2 separate regions of the Homo sapiens genome follow, and region 1 is linked to region 2. Evidence: fine-mapped expression QTL. Tissue or cell type: whole blood. Region 2 holds a variant in brackets; the other region holds the start of a gene. All regions are shown on one strand. Distances are between the middles of the regions.

The links. PIP is the estimated chance that this variant, and not a neighbour inherited with it, causes the effect.
Region 1: it holds the start of ZC3HAV1, and the variant in region 2 is fine-mapped to the expression of ZC3HAV1 in whole blood (INTERVAL, PIP above 0.99).

What each region holds. Positions count from the first base shown.
Region 1 is chr7:139,108,616-139,111,373 of GRCh38, forward strand. It overlaps ZC3HAV1 (zinc finger CCCH-type containing, antiviral 1), which reads right to left and starts at 1,105. Exons shown (of 13, transcript NM_020119.4): 1 at 409-1,105. The coding sequence starts at 716. RefSeq lists enhancers at 4-133, 714-813, 758-1,261, 1,054-1,213.
Region 2 is chr7:139,056,753-139,059,510 of GRCh38, forward strand. All of the region lies in intron 9 of ZC3HAV1 (zinc finger CCCH-type containing, antiviral 1), which reads right to left. Among named protein-coding and RNA genes, the nearest start is that of MIR10399, 14 kb to the left of the region's middle. The variant T/C (reference allele first, on the strand shown) is at 1,294.

The DNA of each region.
Region 1 (2,758 bases), 52 kb after region 2:
GTAGGGAGGGAAAGACTCAAGATACCAAAGACGGGAGGCTCTTTCCTTCCTTCCCAAACCTGCCTACCGCTTCTCTAGGCCCTGGCTGGCTCCAGAGCACTTTATTCTTCTGATTCGTGCGGGCGGGCGGGGAAAGGGGTGGAGGTTGAGCCTGGTCTCCTCCAGGCACTAGCATTTTAGCCATTCTCGAGAAAATGTCTGGAGGTGCCGGAAGGAAGGGAACTGCAAAGGTAGAAGCGCGGGCCCTGCAGAGGCTCCCAGAGGGGAGCAGAGAAGGGAGTGGCTGGAGGCGGAGGCTGTCAGGTGCGGGGTCCCGGCGAAGCCGTGCCCCTCCCAGAACATTGCCCGCCTGGACAGTCCACCCCGACCACGGCTGCGGACAGCGCCCCTCCCTCCGGGTGCACTCACCGCTCGGACTGCGAATAGTTGCACCGGCCCAGCAAGTTGAGTTTGCAGAGATGCAGGTTATCGCAGGGTCTCTGGCAGTACTTGCGACGGCAGACCCGGGCTCGAGTGGTGGCCACCACCGATCGGGTGATCCCGGCCTCGCCGCCGGTCTCCAACACCACAAAGCGGTCGGGCCCGGCCACCTGCAGCACCTCACAGAGCTGCGGCTCAGACAGCGCGATCTCCTGGAGCAGCGCGTCCAGGGCCATGCGGCCCCCGTGGGCGCACAGGATTTTGGTGATGAAGCAGCACACCTCCGGGTCCGCCATGGCGCGCTGGCTGTGCTGGCTCTGCCGCGGCGCGGGACTCGGTTCCGCGGAAATCGGAAATCGAAACTTACAAGTGTCCAGGGGCGGGCGCGGGCGGTGCTACTGCTGGGCGCGCCCGGAGTCAGCGAGGGCGCGCTCTCCGTCGCCGTTAGCCCAGCCCAGCGATCCACTCTCGGCTCTCAGGTCAAGAGGCTAGATCTCACCGACCGGGTCCTAGTGGCAGGTTTACAGCCGGCCGCAAGGGCAACTGGGTGGAAAGAAAGAGAACGCGCGGGCAAATCTGCTGGTGACCGCCTGGGGTGGCCCCCTCTCGGTTCTAGGCTCGGCGAGGGTGAGGTTCTCCAGCCGGGCTCCGCGAGCCTTCTTTAGAAAGAAGAGAAACTAAAAGCGATCTTGGGGCTCTGGCCGGTGTTTTATAAGCCAGCCGACTGAGGCGTGTGACGCAAGTCCTGAGAGCCCTGTTGAGGAGTGCGCACCCCACCCATTCCCGGAAAGAGCAGACCCTAGCGAGCGCTTCCTGCGAGCCGTGCGCTCTGCCTCTGTTGGTAGTGAATCTTCCCAGCAACTCCACATGGTAGATATTATTATCCTCACCCTGAACTTGAGGAAGTAACTTGCACGAACACGCACTGGCATCAAGCGGAGCCCAGATGCCACCGAGTTTCCCCAAATCGCGTCCCCAGGCCCCAGATCGTGGTACCCCAGGCCCCGATGTGCAAGTTTCTCCTCCACCACCGTGCCCTCTTAAAGAACAACGATTGCCACTCTCCCTCGTTTCTGCCTTCTCACGAACTTTTGGACAAACCACTTCTTGACATGGTCTTGCTTACCTAGAATCGCTAACTCGGTGCCCTGAACCACTGCTTGTACCTCAATCACGGTGGACATGCTAAGACATATCCCAAGATTTCAGATCGGTTCCTCCCCGTAGAGATTGGGACAAGAACTTTTCCACCGTGGGGACGTACTTTGACCCCCAGAGTTGACATAAAGATTGTTTTTAAGTGAAAACATTGAGCTACAGAAGATGTAGAAAGAAATCTTAATGAAACTTCCCTTATCTGACTAAAGCAAAACCTCCCGAAAACATGGTGCCATTAAAAGCCTCTCGGAGTATTCAGCTGCCAGGAAGACAGACTGTCCCATTACCATTAGCACCAAAAAACCCAATGGGCTGGGTGCTGTGGCTCAGCCCGTAATCCCAGCGCTTTAGGAAGCCGAGGCAGTGGGAGGATTGCTTGAACCCAGGAGTTCAAGACTAGCCTGGGCAACATAGTGAGCTCTCTTCAATAATAATAATAATAATAATAATAATAATAATAATAATAATAATAAAAACAACCCGGGCATGGTGGTGTGCAGCCGCAGTCCCAGCTACTCGGGAGCCTGAGGTGGGAGGATTGCTTGAGCACGGGAGGAGGCTGCAACGAGCCGGGATTGTGCCACTGCACTCCAGCCTGGGGGATAGCGCTGAGACTTTGTCTCAAAAACACAAAACAACCCAATCAAAACTTCCAAACTCTCCTACTGAAGCCCTAAAACTTTCCTTTTTGTTAAGTTGAGGTATATAAACCTTTACTTTTGAGTTTTCTGTTACTGGAAGCTCCTGCATGCATGTGTAAATAAACTTTGTCTTTTCTCCTATTTATCTGTCTAGTGCCAGTTAATTTTTAGGCCCCCAAAGACAGGACACAAGTTGAAGAGAAAAAAGGTTTTTTTTTCCAACATCTTCAAATAAAATAGATGGGTCATTTGATCAGATAAGAAATACATCTTTTTAAAAAATAATAGATTCTGGTTGCTAACTTAGAAATTCTTCAAAATGATTAATGAGAATTCTCCTCAGTTTTGTCATTCATGGTATATAAACCCTCTTTCAGGAATAGAGTACTTTGTTATGAAAACCAGCCAAACATGGGGGCCACATAGGATCATCTTAGGATGTCTAAGAGGGACATCTTGTTCCCTCTAGTTGCTGCTTCTATAGTTGTCTTTTAATCCACTTGGCCTTATTTGTGGTCTGACAGGTTCCCAGGGACCTT
Region 2 (2,758 bases):
GGAAACTGTAGTAGACTAAAAGATATTTATGACACAAATCAACCAAACACAATGTACAGACCCTGCTTAGATACTGATTTGCAATACCTCAACTCTAAATAGTCATTGTTTAAGACAATGGGAAAACATAAAACGTGAACTGGGTATTAGATGATATTAAGGAATTATCATTAACTTTGTTACATAGGTTAATGATATTGTATTATGTTTTTTAAAACCTCTTACCTGTTAGGAAGACACCTAATATATATACAGGGAAATGATAACATGTATTGGATTTACATTAAAATATTCCAGCAAAAGAAAAAAAGTTAGGCCAGGTGTGGTGGCTCATCCCTATAATCCCAGCACTTTGGGAGGCCGAAGCAGGAGGATTGCTTGAGCTCTGGAGTTTAAGACCTGCCTGAGCAACACAGTGGGATCCCCCTCCCCATCTCTAGAAACATTTTTTTTAAATTATCCAGGTGTGGTGGTGCACGGCTGTAGTTGCAGCTACTCAGGAGGCTAAGGCAGGAGAATCACATGAATCCAGGTGTTTGAGGCTGCAGTGAGCCATGATCACACCACTGCACTCTAACCTGCATGCAGAGTGAGACTCTTTCTCAAAGAAAAAAAAAATTTAGAGGTGATGGTAGTAACAATATTGTTACCACTACTACAAATACGTTACAAAGATAGTAAAATATTGACAGTGTTTAAGTTGGATGATAGGTACTCAGGGGTTTATTATCAATTCTTTGTACTTTATGTTTGAAATTTTCCATGATCAAAACAATTACATTTTTTTTTTTTTTTTTTTTTTTTGAGACGGAGTCTCCCTCTGTTGCCCAGGCTGGAGTGCAGTGGCGCGATCTCGGCTCACTGCAAGCTCCGCCTCCCGGGTTCACGCCATTCTCCTGCCTCAGCCTCCCGAGTAGCTGGGACTACAGGCGCCCGCCACCACGCCCGGCTAATTTTTTTGTTATTTTTAGTAGAGATGGGGTTTCACCGTGTTAGCCAGGATGGTCTCGATCTCCTGACCTCGTGATCCGCCCACCTCAGCCTCCCACAGTGCTGGGATTACAGACGTGAGCCACCGCGCCCGGCCAACAATTACATTTTAAAAAATAAATGCTTGAAGGAAAAAACTCTTTAAAGAAGAAGGTGACTCATTAGAATGAGAAAGATTGGCCCCAGTTTATCTCTATTTTAAGGTCAGGTTTCCATTCTGGATTTGTATAACATGGGATAGACTGAATGAATATGTTGTAAGATGCCCATGAACAGTGACGTGTGCCGTAGTTCACTTCTATG[T/C]CCCACTGTAGTTCAGGATAGTACCCCAGCCCTTATTCTATCCTACAGCAAGTGTGTCTCCTTGGGCTAGTGAGAGCAGGATTAAATTTGGTTCTCTGCATGACCCACCCCCCACCCTCCCCCACTAACATGTTTTTCTAATTTATTTTTTTTATTCATGTGGCTGTTTATTATCACTATGTGCCATGCATTATACAAACTATTCCAAGACAGCCTGGGCAACCTGGAGAAACCGTGTCTCTATTAAAAAATAAAAAAATTAGTCAGGTGTAGCGGTGTGCACCCATAGTCCTAGTTACTTGGGTGACTGCAGTGGGAGGATCACCCGAGTCCGAGAGGTTGAGGCTGCAGTGAGCTGTGATTGCGCCACTGCACCCCAGCAACCTAACCCCCAACCCCCCCCCCCCCCACAAAAAAACACCAAAATATTTCAAGAGCTCTGAGGAGCTGATAATTGAGGTTGGTGGGGAGGGAGGGGGAAGGGAGGAGGAGGGAAGGTTGTGCTAGAGACATTTACATAAGTAACTGTATTACAAGGTAGAAGTGGGTAAGTACTATAAGGGAATCTCGAGTGTTGGAGAATTGGAGGAGAATCACAAGGAATGTTATAGTATGGGAAAGTGGCATTCCAGCTAAATCGTGAGGGGTGCTGTATTCATGTGAATGACGGGAAGGAGTATTCCTGGAGAGGGGAAGAGCAAATGGAAAAGCACGAAGCAACTCTGACATATGGAAGTTCTTGAGATCGACAATGGCTGACTACAGGAGCTATCTGGAAATGCCACAAAGCAATTTTTTCCCCTAGAAATACATGTGCACAGAAAGAACCATCCAGCTTGGCGTCAAGGTTTACTATGCTTTCCACAGTTCCTGCTGTCTGGAAGGGCCATAAAGCATGGTCTCACTAGTTGAGACTAACTGGGAGTATCTGAATTGTTAAAAAATCAAAATTACCGGAACTTTAAAAAAAAAAATGCAGTTTTGTTGCTTTAAGGAAAGACAGTTCCAACACACTTTTGTGAAGACATCCTGCCAGAACGATTGTAACGATTGTAACGAATGGAAAGCAGCTCTGATGATCTCATTCATTGGCTGAATGTGAACAGCCCCTCCCCATCCTCCTACTCTGCCTTTTTCCCCCACCTAACATTTGTCAGGAACTGAAATAGTTATTGCCTCATCCACCAGAATGTAAGCTCCCGTGAGGGCATGAGATTTACTCCTCTCTTCCCTAAACCCTGAAATATTCTTTTTACTTTATTAATTTGAATATTTAAACTACAGGAAGGGGCCAAGTGCAGTGGCTCATGCCTGTCATCCCAGCACTTTGGGAGGCTGAGGCAGGTGGATCACCTGAGGTCAAGAGTTCGAGACCAGCCTGGCCCTCACGGTGAAACCCTGTCTCTATTAAAAATACAAAAATTAGCTGAGCATAGTGCCATGTGCCTGTAGTCCCAGCTACTCA